2 separate regions of the Homo sapiens genome follow, and region 2 is linked to region 1. Evidence: fine-mapped QTL for protein levels in blood plasma. A gene starts in region 1. The other region holds a variant in brackets. All regions are shown on one strand. Distances are between the middles of the regions. Region 1 holds the start of NID2 (nidogen 2). Region 2 overlaps NID2 (nidogen 2).

What was found. PIP is the chance, under the fine-mapping model, that this variant and not a neighbour inherited with it causes the effect. Protein levels are from antibody-based Olink assays in UK Biobank. Linkage for the fine-mapping came from a reference panel and not from the study's own genotypes, which makes the PIPs less certain.
Region 2: its variant is fine-mapped to the plasma level of the NID2 protein (UK Biobank, PIP above 0.99). The variant lies in the coding sequence of NID2. If it changes the protein, the assay may bind it differently, which can mimic a change of level.

The regions. Positions count from the first base shown.
Region 1 is chr14:52,064,725-52,075,366 of GRCh38, reverse strand. It overlaps NID2 (nidogen 2), which reads left to right and starts at 6,308. Exons shown (of 22, transcript NM_007361.4): 1 at 6,308-6,600; 2 at 7,204-7,509. The coding sequence starts at 6,373. LOC105378180 (a long non-coding RNA gene) reads right to left here and starts at 6,131. Exons shown (of 2, transcript XR_943864.4): 1 at 3,860-6,131; 2 at 1,220-3,138.
Region 2 is chr14:52,031,480-52,041,499 of GRCh38, reverse strand. NID2 (nidogen 2) reads left to right here. Exons shown (of 22, transcript NM_007361.4): 8 at 649-849; 9 at 2,523-2,753. Among named protein-coding and RNA genes, the nearest start is that of NID2, 33 kb to the left of the region's middle. The variant G/T (reference allele first, on the strand shown) is at 727.

The sequences.
Region 1 (10,642 bases):
TACAAAGGGCTTTCCCTGCTGGACAGCCTTAGCTTTCCCCAGAGGTGAGGGAGATCCATGAAAGGAACGTGTGGTGGTCAGATGTATTTTTAGACATATGTAGAGAAAGAATTGGGGGAAAGGCTCAATCGTGAGGAGTGGGTGCTGCTGCATGCAACAGTGGACTCAGCTTATAGGGATCTGTTTGCTCACATGCCAAGGAATATGGTGAAGGCAGGTACTGACTGGCTTAGATACTCAGCTCCCCTCTGTGTTTTTGCTTGGCCATGCTTTTGTCCTCATTGTTGTACCTCACAGTGAGAAGATGGCTGGCCAAGCTCAAAACATCACCTCCATGTTTAAGGTAGCAAGAATGGGGAAAGATACAACTATTCCCTTAAATCACCAACACAAAACCTTTCCAGAAACCCCCAGACTTTCATGAGATGTCTGGAAGTTAGAACAGGACTATACCAAATGGCCACCTTTGGCTGCAAGAGAGACTGAGAAAGTAATAATCTTACTTCTATAGTGATGGGGGCCAGGGAGAAGGAGGTTGGAAATAAGGGTTGAAGAAATGAACCTATCATTTCTGCCACAAAAGCTAGCAGGTGACAGTTGGTGAGGACCTGAGATAGGCCAATGGTAATCGAGAAAGGGCAAATATTGTTGCCATGGACTAAAATGGAAAACTCAGAAATACTGAGTATTGAATCTAGTTATGCTAGATGAAGACTTAGGTATTGTCTCGGGGAGATGTTCAGCAGGGAGCTGGATGTTAGTTCTAAACTTAAGTGAAGGCTCAGGCCTGGGGATATATTTGAGAGTCATTAGAATATAGGTGGGAAGCTGGGCCATCAGAGGAGTCAAGACACTCCAGGACAGCATGACATGAGAAGAGCAGTAGGCCATGGTCATGCCATACATTTAGACATCGGAAGCAGAGCATGAGAAATTCACAGGAGATACTACAACAAAATGGCTGGAAAAGTCAAGGGAGTAGAGAATTTCTAGAAATGAGTGGTCAGTAGGATCAGAAACAAAAAGGCCCAGTAAGATAAAAACAAAAACTACCTATAGGGTTTGGTAATATGATTTTGCTGTTGGTCTTTCCCTGAGCAGTTCAGTGATGGGGTTGGGAAGATTATTTTTGCAGTGGAAAGAAGGAGGCAGGAAGTATAAATTCCTTTCCAGTAGAGTTTTTGAAAGTAAGAGAAATAAAACTAAGGCAACAAATAAGTAGGGAAATTTGTTTTTTATTTTTATGGGTAAGACTGGGCAGAGGGGATTTAGAGGCAGAGGGGAAGAGGCCAACAGGGAGGGAAGGGTTGAAGTTACAGGAGACTGTATCACTATAAGGGTGAAAGGCTTAATCATGATTGGCTTCCACCAATCTTAGGGCATCTGCCAGGGCTGAGGAAGCAACCCATCATTCCCGGGCTTATTGCACCCTTTACCTGAACAATATGGGGTTTCTAAAACCAAAAAAAAAAAAAAAAAAAAAAAAAAAAGAGGGGATGGCTGTTGGGAGAGGTTCCAATAGTGTCTGCCACACCAACCCTCTCTCTACTTAAAAATGTCACAGCAGAATTGCATCTGCAGTGATTCATATCAAAAGCTTGAACAGTCTTTTCATATTGCACATTTTAATTTAAATACTTTCTCACTTCATGGTTCTCCTTAGGCCTAACCTACTTTCAATTAAGCCTGAGTCTGTGAAGACATACTAACTTGTTCGAGTCTATTTTCTCTACATGCTAGCACACACACCCTGGAATTTAATGGATAGTAAAATTATGCAAAGAATCACTGTGTGCAACAAGAACTGGGACATTTCCTGCCAAGCCCACCTCCAATACAAACATGTACACACACCCATCGGTGCTATACATAGAACTTGCTCTTAAATACCAACATCCATTTGCCACACTGTGGAGCAAATATGCTTCCATTCTCATGATTAAAATAACAGGAAGTATCATCATTCTTGAAGTCTTGGTATTTATAACAACAATATAACCACAAAAAATATGTAACTGTGGAGACTCTTGATAAGGTCTATTGGCAAGGCATCTGGTAGCATCCTTGGCTTGATGAAAAGCCCTGTATCTAAATAATCTTACTTTTCAAGCAATGCTGTGATGTACCCTGAGGATCCAATCCAAGAAGGGTAAAAACTGCTACAGACGTCCTCTATAACCCCCAGCCTGAAAGGGGCCTTTGCCTCTTCAGCCAGTCTGGCAGGTCATGGAAATTCTACTCTTGCAAAGAGAGCTGTGGATACAAGCAAAGTATTTCTTCAGTATTTACTTTGACTGGTGAAAGAGCCACGGCAGATTTTTTTCTTTTTCCCCAAGACACAAAATGACATTTTAAAGAAGAAACCACTCTTGGTGCCATAGCGTCTTTTAAAAATAATATCAGAATAAAAGCTCAAAGGCATGTTCTCTTAAGCACAGCTGTCCAAAGCCTCCTATTTCAGGGAGAATTCAGCCACTTTATGCAGACAGGAAAACAAAACTGTTCGTTTTAGCATCTTCTCTATTGGAACTATTTTTTTGTACTCAGATTGCATCAGATTCAAAACTAGTGACATCCTCTTATGCTCTGTTTCCCCAACCAGATCATGAGCTCTTTAAGGTCAGGGGCCACATTTTGTACTCCTTTATTTCTTGCAGAGTTGTGTTTGTCATGGTGTACTTTCAGGAAATTGTTGTTGAATGGATGAATGAATGAAAGAATGACAAAAATGGGAGAGCAGTGGTAGGTGAGTTGCTAGGCAGCCTGGTAAAGAGGATTACAAGAGTCAGGTCAGATTAGCAGGAAAGGTGGTGTAGGGGAAAGAATGTTGCATTCTGAGCCAGCAGACATGGGTCCTAGTCCCAGGCTGGCTTGCTTGTCTTCACTCATTCAACAAACATTTCTTACACTTCAAGTGAGCCAGGCAGGCATTGCGGCAGACACTGAAGAAGGCAAAATCCCTGCCCTCCAGGTGTGGTGGTGGTGGTGGTGGTGGTGGTGGTAAGGGAAGCATGTGGAGATCAGGATTATGGGAGAGATGTGTGATAGGAGGTATGATCACGGCAAGCACAGGGCACATGGAAGCAAGGAGAAAGGGCTTCTAAATCAGACTGTGGATTCCAGGAAAGCTTCGTCCACCTGAAAGGAAAAGACAGAGGCACAAAATATAACAAAACATTTACTTGAGCCAAAGTGAGGACAGTTGCCCGGAAGACTTAGACCCAAGTAACCCTGGATATGAGCTTCATGCCGCCTTTATTACAAGCAGGTTTTTTACAGGCAGAAAAGGGGGACAGGGAGTAGGCCGATATGAAATTGTTTGTAAGGAATTCACATTGGTTTACAGAAACAACATTGCTCACTGATTGGCTATGCACTGTTAAGCTATAGGCTATGAGTGATAGTGTCCAGTGTGACATTATTAGGTTAATGTATAGTTACTTGTGGCAATAGCAAGCAGTTTCAAGGATGAATACATAGCTCAAAAGGGGGCAGTAGTGTTACTGGAAAGAGTTCCTGATCCAGACCCTAAGAGAGGGCTCCTGGATCTGGTGCAAGAAAGAATTTGGAGTGAGTCTACAAAGTAAAGTGAAAGTGACTTTATTAGATAAGTAAAGAAACAAAAGAATAGGCAGAGCAGTGGCGTCGGCTGCTTGACTGATTATACTTATGGTTATTTATTGATTATAAGCTAAATGGGGTGGATTATTAATGAGATTTTTGCAAAAGATGTGGGGAATTCTTTTCTCTTCCCAGATTCCTGAAGGAGGAGGGTTTTGATTCAAGCCTTAAAGATGAGAAGGTGTTGGCTTGAAATTGACCAAGAAATTGACCTTTTACTGTAGGTAAAAGGACTTACCTGTGAGGATGTTGTATTGGAGAATTAAAGTCTCAGCTTCAGGTGAGACTTCAGGGTGGCTGTGACGGGAGATAAAGTTAGAGACATAAACTAGAGCTACTTTCCAAAGGGCCTTGCTGCAATATAATTTAGTGGTTAGGAGTGGAGGTTTAGAGATCAGACAGAATTGGGTTCAAATCTCAGCTTTGGTACTTACCAGCCATGTGATAATAACTGATTTTTTTAAAATCCCATCTGAGCTTTAGTTTCCTTAACACAACGACTACCTGTTATCAGTTGTCTATTGCTGCATAACAAATTATCCCAAAATGTAATAGCTTAAAGCAACACACAGCTTCTTCAGCTTCTGAAGCTGAAGCTGTAATTCTCAGTTTTGGTTGGTCTGGAATCCCACCAAAACTATAATTATAATCTAACCAAAACTATAATTCTCAGTTTTGGTGGGTCTGGAATCTGCACCTGGCTTAGCTGGGTCCTCTGCTTCAGGGTCTCTTGCAAGGCTGCAATCAAATGTCAGCCAGCGCTGAGATACCATCTCAAGACCCAACTGGGGAAGGATCCGTTTCCAAGCTCACTGACATGGTTGTTGGCAGAATTCAGTTCCTTGCTGACTGTTGGCCAGAGGCTGCCCTCCTCAGTTCCTTGCTATGTGGGCCTCCCCGACATAACAGCTTGCTTCATCAAAATCAATGAGAGGGAAAGTCAACTAACAAGGAAGAAGCCACAATCTTATTTAGCCTTCTTCTCATCACTCTTGCCACACTATGTTTGTTAGAAATCACAAGGCCAGTCCACACTCCCAGGGCAGAGATTATACAGGGGAATGAACACCAGGAAATGGGGATCATTGGAGACCATCTCAGTGTTTGCTTGCCCCAAAGCTCATAGCTTAGTACCACTAAATAAATGTTAGTTATTATTATTATGCTGAATCGAGAGATAAAGTAAAACTACAGAGGGCCAGTAGTTTTATATCAGGGAGTAACTTCAGATGATGTTGGGCAAGTCAAGTCATCTGTCTTTGAACTTTCATTTCATCCTCAGTAAAATAAAAATACCTGACCCCAGAAAGAATGAGAAAATATATGTGCAAGCATAAATATATTTTTGGAACATCAAATATACAACTCTCCACTCTGAGGAAGCAAACTGCTTTGGGCCAGTTTTCCATTTTGTGTCTGCTCTATGAGTCTCACAGTCTGATGTCTTCACGTTTTTTAGCGTTTGGTCCAGTGGGCCCATAGGAATAAACACCTACAAAGAGCAGTGTGTCTCTGGAGAGTCCTTTAAGGCATTTCCAAGGATTTGCTTTTTGGTTTTTTTCTTTCTTTCGTTCTTTTTAAATATCTTTGCTTTTAAGGACCTCATGGGGGGCCTGGGAGAGAAAACAGACTGTCTGGGAAATTTTAAGCTCTTGATAATAAAAATGGTAATAAAATCTCCTCCAGCTCCTGAGGCTTCGCAGAGGGGATGTTTATGGTGGATGGGGTTCCCCTTCTCCTGCGCAGCTGGTTTCGAGGTTGTGCGGTTTCCAGTCCTGCGGAGCAGCTCAGGTTACCGCCTCCGTGGCCGCGGGGGAGGGCATCTCCGACGGCCGCAGCAATGGGCAAGAGATCAGGGTCTTCCCATCCCCGCGACTCGCCCCTTTCTGCCTGGTAACCAAGCGGGATGCCTCATCCTACTCCCCAAACGGAGCGGATCACACACAGTAGTATTTCATGGTCTTTCCTGCTGCGGTTTTCCCGGGGGAAGGTACTTCCAGAGGGTGGCCAAGTCTTCCCTAGCGGCCGGCCTTCGGGAGGGGGACAGAACTTAGGAGTCAGCCCTCTGCCTTCGTACAAAGGCTCGCTTCTCCTCAGGGCGTCTCTGGGTGGAGCGAAGCGGCCGAGGGGACCACGACAATGTCCCTTTGCTTTTCGGACCGATGGCCAGGCCTCCAGAGCCAGGAGCGCCCGGGACCCCAGGGCAGGGAGCAAAGCTCATACCGCAACCCCGCCACCCGCCCGCGCCCTGCCAGCCTGTTGGGGCCACAGCGCGCAGGCCAGCAGCCGCACTCGCCGCTGCGGGGTTCCCTTTGCGCTGAGCTCATCTCCTGCAACGCCGCTGCCCCAAACCTTGCGGGCCATTTGGTCCCGGGGGTGGGGCTCCTTGGGGGCCGCGGGGCAGCCCGGATGAGAGGATGACCCGGGAGCTCCCTGGGGGCGGAGTGGAAGGGGCAGCTCCAGGCAGCCCTGGCCAGGAGCTTTTACCCCGCCAGCCCCGCTGCTCCAGCGGCCGCTGCCTTAGAAAAGTTAACGAGAACCAGATGTGGTGGCCACTGCCGAACTTTCTCAGAGCCGGTGATTGGTCCCCAGCCGAGGGCCTCAGCCAATTAGCTTGCTGGGTGGGCCTGGAGTCCCGCCCCGCCCAGGCGCCCGCGGAGATCCAGGTTCGAGGCTGGCGCGGCGCGGAGAGTGGGCTGGAGGCCGGGGCGGGACGCGTTGTGCAGCGGGTAAGCGCACGGCCGAGCGAGCATGGAGGGGGACCGGGTGGCCGGGCGGCCGGTGCTGTCGTCGTTACCAGTGCTACTGCTGCTGCCGTTGCTAATGTTGCGGGCCGCGGCGCTGCACCCAGACGAGCTCTTCCCACACGGGGAGTCGTGGGGGGACCAGCTCCTGCAGGAAGGCGACGACGAAAGCTCAGCCGTGGTGAAGCTGGCGAATCCCCTGCACTTCTACGAAGCCCGATTCAGCAACCTCTACGTAAGTTCAGCCCCCTCCTGGCACTTTTCCCGCAGCTTCTTCCCTGGGGTCGGTCTCACGGAAACCCTGCCTCCAGAGGGGAGGAAACAGACCCCACTCCTGGAGCCCCCCAGCACCCTTGCGGTGGTACCCGGCCAGAGAGCGATGCCGCTGCCTGCCCCGCTGCTGTAGGGGAGCAAGAATGACCTGGAGGGGAGAGCAAGAATTGTTCGCAGCCACGTACGCGTCCCAGGCAGAAAAGGTGGCGTTGCTAGGGCGGCCAGCGGGCTTTGCAGTTAGGACCGCGAGAAGGCTGTGCCCGTCTGCGGAGCTGGGGTGTTCCCTCTTCAGACCTGGAGGCTTCCTCTCCGAGGACATGGGGCTCCGGGGTTGTGAGGGGAGTGAGAAGATAGGTGAACGAGTTTTAGGGCCCCTGGACCTACTGCAGCGCGGAGCTGGGACAGTCGCAAAAGTTGCGCTTGTTTCCCTGAATCCAGACTCCCTGGCCAGTGGGGAAGGAGAGAGAGGCTTTTTGCCTAAGTCAGTTCCCTTCCCTCCCTGCGCGAAAGGGTAGCGTCCTTGGGCTTGAGCGACTGTCACCTTTTTGTCCCTCTCCTCTCCCAGGTGGGCACCAACGGCATCATCTCCACTCAGGACTTCCCCAGGGAAACGCAGTATGTGGACTATGATTTCCCCACCGACTTCCCGGCCATCGCCCCTTTTCTGGCGGACATCGACACGAGCCACGGCAGAGGCCGAGTCCTGTACCGAGAGGACACCTCCCCCGCAGTGCTGGGCCTGGCCGCCCGCTATGTGCGCGCTGGCTTCCCGCGCTCTGCGCGCTTTACCCCCACCCACGCCTTCCTGGCCACCTGGGAGCAGGTAGGCGCTTACGAGGAGGTCAAGCGCGGGGCGCTGCCCTCGGGAGAGGTAAGTGACCAGGGATATTTGACTGCTGAGGAAATTGAAGGATGGGCTTAAATTCTGGGGCAGCGACCCAGGGACTGGCTCGGAGTTGTTTCTGAGCCTACTCTTGCGCTGAACCTGACCTTGGAGGCAGCAGGGCTGGAGTGGCTTGGGAGTGAGGAAAGACGTTGTCTCTAGGCATCTTCTGAGGCCCTGGCAGGTGGTCACTCCCTTGAGGAAAAAAATGCTTAGCGGATATGAGAGCGGGAGTGCAGATGTGGGAGCCCCTTTGAACATAAGGCAATTTACTGTTTGGTTGCTTATTTTTAGAACCATCTCTAAGTATACAAGTATTTCTAATTATATGTTCATTGAAGGGGAAAAAATCAGAAAATACAGATAATTTTAAAAAAGAAAACAACCACTCATTTTCCCACCACTGATAAACATTTTTCTGCGTACATTTTCAGAGTTTTTTCTTCTGCATATCTTTATTGCTGTCTATTAACAATGATGAGTTTACACTGCACATACTGTTTTATAACTTGCTTTTTTCACAGAATAGTGTATTGTAAATATGTTTCAATGTCAATAAATGTATTTCTACATCATTTATAATGATGCATACTACTGTATCCTGCTATTATCCTGTATAATAGTGGGTGTACCACAGTATGCTCAACCAGTGTTGGGCCATTAAGGCTTTTTCTGGTTTTTCATTATTATAAATAATAGCGTGAATCACTTTTTAAAAAGCTAAATCTTTGCACATGTTCTTAGTTGACATTCCAGGAAGTGCAATTGGTAGGTCAGAGAGGATGCACTTTTGATAAAGTTCTTGATAACTTCTGCCTAATTGCCTTCCAGGTACCAGTTTACAAGTTTCTTAGTTTATAGGAGTCTGCCGTCAATGTGCTTTACAGTCTCTACCTGCGGAAAGTAAAAAATTCCAGGCTCCTGGTCTTTAGTCTTGTCATCAACATTTGAAGTCCTCCAAATGGATATGAGTGGGGCCAGCGTGCTTGGTAAATGGCAAACTGCCTCATTCCTGAAGAAAGTAAGGGCTTCCTTCTATGGAATTAGACCTGAATCTAAAATACCATACTCTAGGGGCTGAAACCATATGATTCATCTCAATTTTAACTTACGGAAATGCTTCTTCACTATAGAAGGATGGTACATGCCCCCTGTAAGAGGTGAGGTTGCTTGCCCATGTCACTGATCTCTATCTTGTAAGGATGCTGTGACTTATATCTTTTGTATGGGGACTCTTTATTTTTTAATTTTTGAGGGTACATAGTAGGTGTATATATTTATGGGGTACATGGGATGTTTTGGTACAGGCATGCAATACGTAATAATCACATCTTGGAGAATGGGGTATCCATCCCCCCAAGCATTTATCCTTTGTATTACACACAATCTAATTACACTCTTAGTTATTTAAAAATGTACAATTAAGTTATTATTGACTATAATAACCTGTTATCACAGGTTATAGTCACCCTGTTGTGCTATCAAATGGTAGGTCTTATTCATTCCTTCTATTTTTTTTTTTTTGGTACCCGTTAACTGTGTCCACCTTCCCCTGACCCCTACTACCCTTCCCAGCCTCTGGTAACCATCCTGTTACTCTCTATGTTGCATAAGGACTCTTTAAATGCAAGGTTTTTGGAATTAAAACTTTTGTCTGGTCCTTTTCTGGGGTGGGGGAGGTTTAGGGTAGAAGAGATTTGTAAATTCCATCTCTCTTTTACTTTTCTAATTAAAATCCACCTGCAGACATTACCATTTGCTAGTTGGCTTCAGAATGTTTCATTAAGAAAACTAGAAATACCATTTGACCCAGCCATCCCATTACTGGGTATATACCCAAAGGACTATAAATCATGCTGCTATAAAGACACATGCACACGTATGTTTATTGCGGCACTATTCACAATAGCAAAGACTTGGAACCAACCCAAATGTCCAACAATGATAGACTGGATTAAGAAAATGTGGCACATATACACCATGGAATACTATGCAGCCTTAAAAAATGATGAGTTCATGTCCTTTGTAGGGACATGGATGAAATTGGAAACCATCATTCTCAGTAAACTATCGCAAGAACAAAAAACCAAACACTGCATATTCTCACTCATAGGTGGGAATTGAACAATGAGATCACATGGACACAGGAAGGGGAATATCACACTCTGGGGACTGTGGTGGGGTTGGGGGAGGGGGGAGGGATAGCATTGGGAGATATACCTAATGCTAGATGACACGTTAGTGGGTGCAGCGCACCAGCATGGCACATGTATACATATGTAACTAACCTGCACAATGTGCACATGTACCCTAAAACTTAGAGTATAATAAAAAATAAATAAATAAATAAATAAATAAATAAAAAAGAAAGGGGAAAAAAAAAAAAAAAGAAAGGAGGATTCTGTTTGGATAGGGGATGTTCTTTCAATTACCCACATTGAAGTTTCTTCCAATATTTTAAAGAGCTCTGGGACTTGAGTTCTTGTTTTAATAGTTCTTTGGAGATAGACTTTGGCAAACAGTAATCTAATTTGCTTGAAGGACTGAGTTCTACATGGCGTTCTTAAAGTTTGGCTTACTAACTTTATATTGCAAAGTTACTGGAAACTGGAAGATTCAAAGCAATGGCATCTTTGCCATTAAAAACAATTGCAGTTGGTGCCCTTTTTCTCCATGGATATTCCTGTCAGGTGTGACCAGATGTTGCACCTGATATTGCAGGAATGTCAAGGTGTAATTGTATCTGAAAAAAAAATGTGAACAAATAGTGTTTGTCAATTCAGTTAATCTGAGATTTCTTGAACTCTCATAGGTAGTTCACAGAGCAAAAAAGTTATGGTGTAGACCTTTGAAATACTTATTGATGGGAGACATAGAGGACTAATGTTTAGCTGTGCTTTTTGTGGGGAAAGAGGAGTGTTTTGTTTTTGTCATTTTAGGGATGGGGTTAGAGACAGCTGAGTTATATAGATCTCTGTAATGTGGGGAATGTTTTGTTTATCTGGAATTTAAGTCAGGTTGAAAGGGCTAAAAAGAATGGATATTGAGAATGAGGTATCAAGAGAGATTGTTCTGAGCAAAAACATGACCCAGGAGAAGGTTGAGAGAGCAACCTATTAGC
Region 2 (10,020 bases), 34 kb after region 1:
GATTCTCACCTTCCAACCTGAAAACTTGTTTGCTAGAGGTTTTATCTTTATTGCATTAAAAATAGTTTTGTGAGAAGTTCTTTCTCCATCTTTAACTGCAGAGCTCGGTAGCTGTTAATAGGTTCTTGCTTTAATCAAAATTTGAATAAAGCCCTTGGGTCAAAAGTAGATAAAAAATGGCACACCTGGATAAATTTGTATTTCAGATAAACAATTTTCTAGTATAAGTATTACCCACATATTTCATGAGACATACTTATCTGAAATTCAAACAAAACCCTGAATGTCTTAGGTGGTAGTTTATTTGTTTTTGTTTTTTTGTTGTTAGGTTTATTTGTTTGTTTGTTTTTTGCTAAGTCTAGCAACCTTAGAGAAAAGTCAAGGACGTTCCCAAGAGTATTTCTCACAGAATACAAGCTTGTTCAAAGAGAAGCTGGGTGAGGTAAGGCAGGATGAAACCATATTCTTCAATGGAAAAGTTTGGGAACTTATGGAATCAACAGCTGATAGTGCTTACTCTCAGATATCAGATAATCTCCTTAGGCACGATCTCCAACAGCAGTAGAAATTGGGAGCGGGCAGTATATACTGGTAACTGTTTAAGCAAGACCTCTTTTCATCCCTGTGCTGAATGTTTTTCATCTCCAGGTGCTGCCTTTACCCATGACATGGAAGTTACATTCTACCCGGGAGAGGAGACGGTTCGTATCACTCAAACTGCTGAGG[G/T]ACTTGACCCAGAGAACTACCTGAGCATTAAGACCAACATTCAAGGCCAGGTGCCTTACGTCTCAGCAAATTTCACAGCCCACATCTCTCCCTACAAGGAGCTGTACCACTACTCCGACTCCAGTATGTATAACCAGTCTTCACATCTGTAAAATGGGGATTATGCCCATCTCACAAGATAGATACAAGGCTTAAATGACTTACATGGCATGTCCTTAGAACAGTGCATGGAACATAAAATGAGCTCTATTATGTTATTACTCTTATTGTTACCATGAAATATATCGTGTAAGTGAGCAGAATGGCTGCTATACATAAGAATATCTATATCCCTACATAGTATTTTCAAATAATAAAATCAATAGCAACATTGTCCATGGGGTGGGTAGGGATGGTATAATTATATACAGTTTTTAACCATCCTACTTTCTGCAACATGGAAAAATAGTGATTATTGGAATTTATATTTATCTCAACCTTGTTTCAGCTGATGAGTTCAGGCTGCTTTAAAAAAAAAAAAAATCACAGAAAGAGGCCAGGTGCAATGGCTCATGCCTGTAATCCCACCACTTTGGGAGGCCAAGGTGGGTGGATCACCTGAGGTCAGGAGTTCAAGACCAGCCTGGCCAACATGGTGAAAACCTGTTTCTACTAAAAATACAAAAATTAGCAGGGTGTGGTGGCACGCTCCTGCGATCCCAGCTACTTGGGAGGCTGAGGCAGGAGAATCATCTGAACCTGGGAAGTGGAGGTTGCAGTGAGCCGAGATTGTGCCATTGTACTCCAGCCTGGGCGACAAAGCAAGACTCCATCTCAAAAACAAAACCAAAAAACACAGAGATGCTATAATTTATTATAAAACTAATGCTAGATTTGGAGTCAAAAGATAAGAATTTATATCCTGGACTTGCCATTTAATATCTATAGGGAAAGGCCTCTTAATATCTGAGAATGTATTTTCTCATCTTTCACATGGAACTAAAAATGCTTTTTCTATATTATGTGATCAATGTGTGCGAAGCGTGATGTGTTCTGTGAAAGTACTACCTGCGCACAGGATGCTGCCTCCATCACAGCTGCTGTTGTGCAGCACAGCAATCCGGATTGAGTTGTGCCTTTCCTCTGACCCCTGCTGCTCCTATGCTGAGAGCTGGCAGCCTGGCAGGAGATGTAGGGAAGACAAGGGGAAGCAGAGACCTGGGCTGTGAACAAAATGGTCAGTGTCCGGATCACTGACCTGAGCTTGACTCCTAGACTCAGATGGTGAGAGACAACCCTTTCCCTTCTCTGGAATCCTTCAGATTTACTGAAGTGCGAGGTGTTGGAAGTCGTCACTTCTGTGAAATGTAGAAGATGGATTGGTTTAAAATTTAGGGTGTAGAGTCAAACCAATGTGAGTTTCAGTTCCAGCTCTACCATGTGGCAGCATTGCATCTTAGGCTACTTAACCTTTGTGAGCCTCTGATCACATGATTTAGTGCCCACCTCACCAGGCTGTTGTGAGGAATAAATGAGGCAGTATGTAGAGAGCACTGTTGGCATGGCTGGCCCTTAGTAACACTTATTCTTTGTGTATAATAACATGGACAATTGTAGTGCCTTCTCCCTCTCAGCACTGTGGCTTTGCATCCACTCAGGTTTTTGGGATTTCCTTACACATTTTTTCATATAAACTCAGGAGGTTCCCAAGGGAACACACTCCAAGAATTAGATGAAAAAAACTGCAGAAAAATCCACCTCACATGAAAATCTCTGTATTTAATATTTTTAAAAAATTACCACTGTGTTTGTTGCAGCTGTGACCTCTACAAGTTCCAGAGACTACTCTCTGACTTTTGGTGCAATCAACCAAACATGGTCCTACCGCATCCACCAGAACATCACTTACCAGGTGTGCAGGCACGCCCCCAGACACCCGTCCTTCCCCACCACCCAGCAGCTGAACGTGGACCGGGTCTTTGCCTTGTATAATGACGAAGAAAGAGTGCTTAGATTTGCTGTGACCAATCAAATTGGCCCGGTCAAAGGTAAGGTTTCCTTTTTTGTTGTTGGGTAAAAATGACATCCTTTTAAGTAGAGTTAGAATGATTCACAGAGGTTACTAAGGGTTACCTAGTGCCATGCTGTGTTATGTGCTAGGTATAAGGATGAATAGAGCAGATCCTTGCCCTTGAGTTGGAAACAGAGGCAGAAAAGAGTTTTAGGGCAGGGAACAGTGTCCCTGCCAAAGTCAGGAAATAGAGCATAGTATGTGAAGCTGGTTTATAGCAATACCCAACTGTGCGTGCCAATCAGGAATATACCTGTGAACAAGGCAGACTGGAATTAGGAGGGAGAGTGATGCTGACAAGTATTTGTTACAAGTGTGATGAGAGCAGGGCACTGTGAGTCTAGTTTGAAGATTCAGAAAAGATGTCCCCAAGAAAGTGACATTTTAGCTAAAACAGATGAGAAGAATTTCATCCAAAACTAAGGTGGAGCAAAGAGCTAGTATCTGGAAAAACCAAACATCATAGAACTTGATGTATAACCTCCCCCTCCATGATTCCCAGAACATTATACTTAATGGTGAAAGACTGGATGCTTTTCCCTGAAGCTTAGGAACAAGACAAGGATGTCTGCTGTTGCCACTTTTATTCAATTCAGTACTAGAATTTCTAGCCAGGGTGATTAGGCAAGAACACAAAATAAAAGCCATCTAAATTGGAAAAGGACAAAGTAAAATTAGTCTCAGATGACATTTTGTGTAGAAAATCTCAGGAATTCACTAAAACACTATTAGAACTAAAGAACAAGTTCGCAATGTTATAAGATATGCAAGATCAGTACACCAAATTGTATTTCTCTATAGTAGCAATGAGCAAACTAAAGATTAAGAAATTGTTTCAAAAAGAGATAAATTTTTAAAAAGAAGTGCAGTACTTGTACATTGCATCCCACAAAACATTTTTGGAAAAAAATTTAAGACCCAGTTAAATGGGAAGATGTTCCACATTCATGGATTGGAAGACTTAATACTGTTAAGATGTGAATACTTCCCAAATTGATCTATTAATTCAACATAATCCCTATCAGAATCTCAGCTGGCTCTTTGAAGAAATTGGCAAGCTGATTCTAGAATTTATATGGAAATTCAAAGAACACAGAATAGCCAAAACAATCTTGGAAAAGAATAAAGTCAGACTTGTATTTCTCAAACTCGAAATCTAGAGTAATCAAGACAGTGTGGTCCTGGCGTAAGGATACATGTAAAGATCAAAGGAACAGAAGTGGGAACCCAGAAATACTCACATTAAAAGTCAATTGCTTTTTCAACAACAGTGCCGGGAGTGGGGAGGGATAGCATTAGGAGATATACCTAATGCTAAATGACGAGTTAATGGGTGCAGCTCACCAACATGGCACATGTACACATATGTAACAAACCTGCACGTTGTAAACATGTACCCTAAAACTTAAAGTATAATAATAATAGAATTCTGATGGTTAAAAGACAAAACAAAACAAAAAACACAGTGCCAAAACAATTCAATGGAGAAAGAATAGTCTTTTAAACTATTGTTAACTATGGTGCTGGGACCACTGAGTGACCACATACAAAAGAATGAAGTTGAACCTTTTACCTCACAGCATATCCAACTCAAAATGGGCCAACAGACCTAAGTGTAAGAGTTAAAACTTTTAGAAGAAAACATATGGGTAAATTTTTGTGACTTTGAATTTGCTAATGGTTTCTTAGGTACGACACTAAAAGCACAAGCAACAGCAAAATAAACTGGGTGTCATCAAAATTTTAACAGTTTGTGCTTCAGAGGACATTATTAACAAAGTGAAAACACAGCCATAGAATGGGAGACAGTATTTTAAATCATGTGATATTTGTTCTAGAGTATACGAAGTATCTTACAACTCAATAAAAAAACAAGCTAACTAAAAGATGGGCAAAAGCTCTGCAAGGACCTCTCTCCAAAAAGATATACAGATACCCAATGGGCATGTGTAAAGATGCTCAGCATCATTAGTCATCAGGGAAATGCAAATCAAAACCACAATGAGATACTACTTTACATCATGTGGTCGAGTATAATCAAAAAACGGGTAATAACAAGTGTTGGCGAGAACATGGAAAATTCGGAACCCTCATACGTTGCTGGTGTGATTATAAAATGATGTGGCTACTGTGAAAAACAAAATAGTGGTTTCTCAAAGTGAAACACAAAGTTACCATTTAATGGAGCAATTCTACTCCTTTCTATATACCCAAAAGAAATGAAAACATAGATCCCCACAAAAACTTATTCGTGTATATTCATAGTGGCAGTATTCATAATAGCCAAAAGGTGGAAGCAACATACATGCCCATCAGTTGATGGACACCAAAAAATATATTCATATACTGGAATATTATTCAACCATAAAAAGGAATGAAGTACGGATACATGCTGCAACATGGATGAACTCTGAAAACCTTAAGTGAAGGTAGTCAGTGACAAAGGACAGCATACTGAATGGTTACAATTATGTGAAATATCCAAAATAGGCAAATCCACATACATAGAAAGCATATTCATGGTTGCCCAGGGCTAAGAGATAATGAGAGCATAGGGCGTTAATAGCTAAAGGGTACAGGGTTAATTTTGGGGGTGATGAAAATGTTCTGAAATTGATTGTGGTGACGGTTGGATAACACTGAATAGACGAAATTGTTTAATTATGTACTTTAAACGGATGAATTGTATGGTATGTGAATTACTTCTCAACTGAAGGCCAGGCATACTGGCTTATGCCTGTAATCCCAGCACTTTGGGAGGCTGAGGTGGGTGGATCACCTGAGGTCAGGAGTTCAAGACCAGCCTGGCCAACATGGTGAAACCCTGTCTCTACAAAATAAAACATATATATATATATATATATATACACAAAAAAATTTAGCCAGGTGTGGTGGCATGTGTCTGTAGTCCCAGCTACTCAGGAGGCTGAAACAGGAGAACTGATTGAACCCAGGAGGCGGAGGTTGCAGTGAGCCAAGATTGTGCCATCGCATTCCAGCCTGTGCAACAGAGTGAGACTCCGTCTCAAAAAATAAAAATAAATGGAAGCAAATAGTAGTAGAAACAAAACTCTAAAACCATTCTCATCGGGTACAGTGGCTTACACCTGTAATCCCAGCTACTCTGGAGGCTGAGGTGGGAGGATCACCTGAGCCCAGGAGTTTGAGGCCAGAGTTGGCCACATAACAAGACCCCGTCTCAAAGTAAGCAGTGGTTCTCAAATTTTAATGACCATTAGCCTCACCTGTGAAGACTGATTTTAAAATGTTCTAGGCATATCATGTCACAGAAAGACATGCAGGAAACTTAAAAGCATGTTGCTCTGTGAAAGCAGCTAGTCTGAAAAGGCTACATACAGAATCATTCTAACCATGACATTCTGGAAAAGGTTACACTATAGAGACAGTAAAAAGATCAGTGGTTGCCAGTGGTTCAGGAGGAAGAAGGAGAAGGATGCATAGGTGGAACATGGGATTTTTAGGGCAGTGAAACTATTCTGTATGATATTGTAATGTTGGTTATAGGCCATTATGCGTTTGTCAGTCTATAGAACTGTCCAACACCAAGAGTGAGCCCTACTGCAGACTATGGGCATTAGTTAATAATGTGTCAGTATTGATTGGGGATAACAAATGCACCACACTAATGCACAATGTTGATAATAGGGGAAACTGCACATTTTGGGTGGGGGGATATGGGAGCTCGTACTTTCTGCTCCATTTTTCTCTAAATGTAAAACCATCCTAAAAAGCAAGGTCTTAATTATTAAAAAATGTTTCAAGCAAGCCAGAGGATGAGCTTGTGAAGTCAGGGAACTCTACAGATGGGAAGTGGCTTTGTCAGATCAAGGGGACATTTTAATTCTGAAAACCAGGTCATGTTTTCCCCTAGAATGTAAGAGCCACACCAGGAGAAAAAAACCATCTTCCTCAATTCAGCCACTGTATTGAAACTGTTGAGCCCAGAGTTAGCTCCTCAGTGAGGTGAATCTGTAAGTGATACGCGGTTCTGTGCTTTGTTATTGGAGCTGAGGGCTCCTTAAGCCTCAGCAGGCTCAATAAAGAAGTGTTGCTTCAGCAATATGACAAGATTAAGGTACAAGGACTAGACTCTTTTCTAGGATGCGAAAGTGACTTGTAATGAGAATCCCGAGGTGCTTTGGTTTTAAGAAACTTGGTTGGGAATGTAGGCATTAGGTGCCCAGATATTGGATTGTAAGGTAGCAAATGAACACATGAAAATGTGAGTTGATTTTAGAGGAACATGTAAATTAGAAAGGGAAAGATTGCTGTAGTAGATTTCTCAAAGAGAGATTTAAACCTACTGGGGAGAATGGTCTTTACCTTTAAATGTCCAGGTCAGCCCTGTGTTGGGTGTAGGCATCTGATCTGTAAAAGCAACTGTTAGTGAAATTTCCCAGGCTATGGAGTCCCATTCAGATTCTGGAACCATTTAGGAAAAAGATGTGTCTCTGGGTATATTTTTCCTAGAGACATACCAAATGAGAGTAAGAAAGGATCAGAGAAAGCAAACTGGCAGGTACCAAGTTGCTTGTTTTCTTTAGAATTTTATGATTTTCCCTCCCACCCCAGTCAAATAATAATATCAAAGGATGGTTTACTTGGTGCCAAGTACTGTTCTAAGCACCTTACATGAATTAACTCATTTAATCCCCACAATGACCTCTACCCAATGGTGGGGTGGGGGTGGGGTTATTTGTTATCCCATTTTACAGATGATGAGACTGAGGTATAGAAATGAAGTAATTTGCCTGGTCATAGTAAGTGACCTGGGTGAGCTGGGACTCAAACTCAGGCACTGGCTCCAGTACGCACACCCTTACCCCTCATGGCTCTGCTGTTCCACAGTGGCCTCATGACTGCCTCATAATTTAGACCAAACTTTGAAAGAGGCAATGTGTGTCTTTTAAACCCTTTGTGTTTGAACCCTACTTCATCCACACACAGCAGTACTGTTCATTCTACCTGAATAGGAGGGAAAAAAAGAAAAACAAAAAAGAAACACCCAAAAGTTTTTTCTTTCCCCTCTTGGTACACAGCAGTATCTTCCTAAGAACTGCTCAGTTTTTCCAGAGGGAACGATAGTTGTTGGAATTCATGTGAAACAGCGCAGCTGTCCACACCTGATGTGGGTGTGGTGCGACTTCCCAGGGCGAGGATGCAGAACTGGGGTGTCTTTCCCAGTGAGTAATTGGAGCCTCTGTCCCTCGGTGACTTCTCAACCAGCAGTGCCACCCCCCACCAGTTGTTTGAGCTTTAAGCTTTAAGTGTGAGTCAGCTGTTTTTTGTTGTTGTTGGTTGGTTGGTTGTTTTGTGGGGTCATAAAACACGATCCAAAAATGCTTCCTGTCCTTCCACTTCACGGGTCCTTTTGGCGAGTTGAGGAGGCTCTGGGCAGAGGGCTGTGCAGTGAAGCTGAAGGGACTGTTCCTTTAAGGAAAACCGCTCTTCCCCTTGATTAAATGAGTAAATTAGTTCCAGATCCTCTGTTAAGAGAGTCAGGCAGTTTAAGAGGGTGAGGGCGAAATAGAAAATGTCTTAAGAAGGATACTGTGTTCTTTACTTACTATAATAGGAGAAAAGCTTACAAGTCATAGAGAATGAGTCGTGAAATGGTTTTAGAAATGTATTTTAAAAATGTTTTGGGAAGCCAAGTTCAGTGAATGGGGCCCTGTGCTCAGAAGAGCCCCATGCTTGGTTTAACGCTTTGCTTTGAACCATGGGCTCCACATTTTCATTTTGCACTGGGGATTGCAAATTATGGAACTAATCCTGTCAGTGACATACATTTTAAATCAGTATTGAGTAATTAGGGACACTTTCTTCTCAATTTTAGGTAGGATAATATATCCTGTCCAAGTTTGCAAGTCAACTTTTGAGCTGAGATTTTTTTTTTTTCTTTTAATGCCTAGCAGGGTGGTAAGCTCTTGATGTCCATGTGAACACACTAATCTTTGCTGGAATGTGCCATGGTGAAATTTTGATGCTGGAAAGTACTGAATAAGAAGGCTAAGCATTAGTATTTATAAATCAAAACATGTTGACAATTACTTCCTGCTTTGGTGGGGTATGCCAGGCATTTTGTACAGAATCTTCCTAAAATGGAGAAATGATGGGAGATGATCACGTTCTTGTCTTACATTGGGTCCTAATGGATGAAGACATGACCTTGTCCTTAGTTATAACCTATTGAGGACTGACTCAGGAACCTGGTCTAGGCTCAAGTTAACTCGGCAACCACAACCCCAGTGCGGTGCCTCTTTCCTGTCAGCCAAGAGATCCAGAGGAACGGACCTCCAAGGATGTCTGCATGCTTCAGGGAGCTAGGCTTATGCTGACATAGTTCATCAGGTTTAAAAAGTGCTGGAATTATTTATTGGTCCTTTGTTTTGGCAAAGATTCTGTTACTCCAGCCGACAACATTGTGGTGAACTGAGGATAAACCCATAGCCCTCCTTATTTTCAGCCAATAATACGGGAATCAATAATACGGGAATATTCCACTACAAGAATGCACTGTGGTGTTTCTTATAAAGTGGGATGGAAAGAGTTTACCAGAAAACAAGGCTGTCTCAGCCAAGGCATCCCAGCTCACAGCAGGCTATGACAGGGCACTGGAAGAGCCATAACGTGGGCAGTAGGGCAGGCACGGGGGAGAATGCCAGACACCCTGAAGGACTTGGGAGCGAGTCCAGTCTATGAGGTCAGCTGCAGCAGTCAGCACTTGGGATCTAGATTAGGAGTCACTCTGGGCAAGTCTCCCCCCATAGCAGTGGGGTTGTGGTTGCCAAGTTAACTTGAGAGTATAGACCAGGTTCCTGAGTCAGCATCTGTTACAATGGAGAACAACAGGGTCATGTCCTCATTGAAGGCTCAGTATAAGACAAGAACCTGATTCTCTCCTGTTGTTATTTCTCCATTTTAATAGAAGATTCTGTACAAAGTGGGGTGGGAGACACGGGTCAGAAAGAGTGAAATGATAGAGAATCCAGGAGGAGGTGGTAAAATGGGTGGTACTGCCAGTGTCTGCCTACAGATGCCATGATGCTGGTGTCTGTGAGTAGTGAGAACTGGTGAGCAGGATGGGACTCAGAGGATGCTAAGCTGGCTATCAAGACAGGGCCTCAGGCACAGAAGTATGAGGCAGAAGCCTGAGTTATTACAACTTAGATGGATCTCCCTTTGTAGCAGAGATGGCTCAATGTAGAACCTGACAGGCTTAG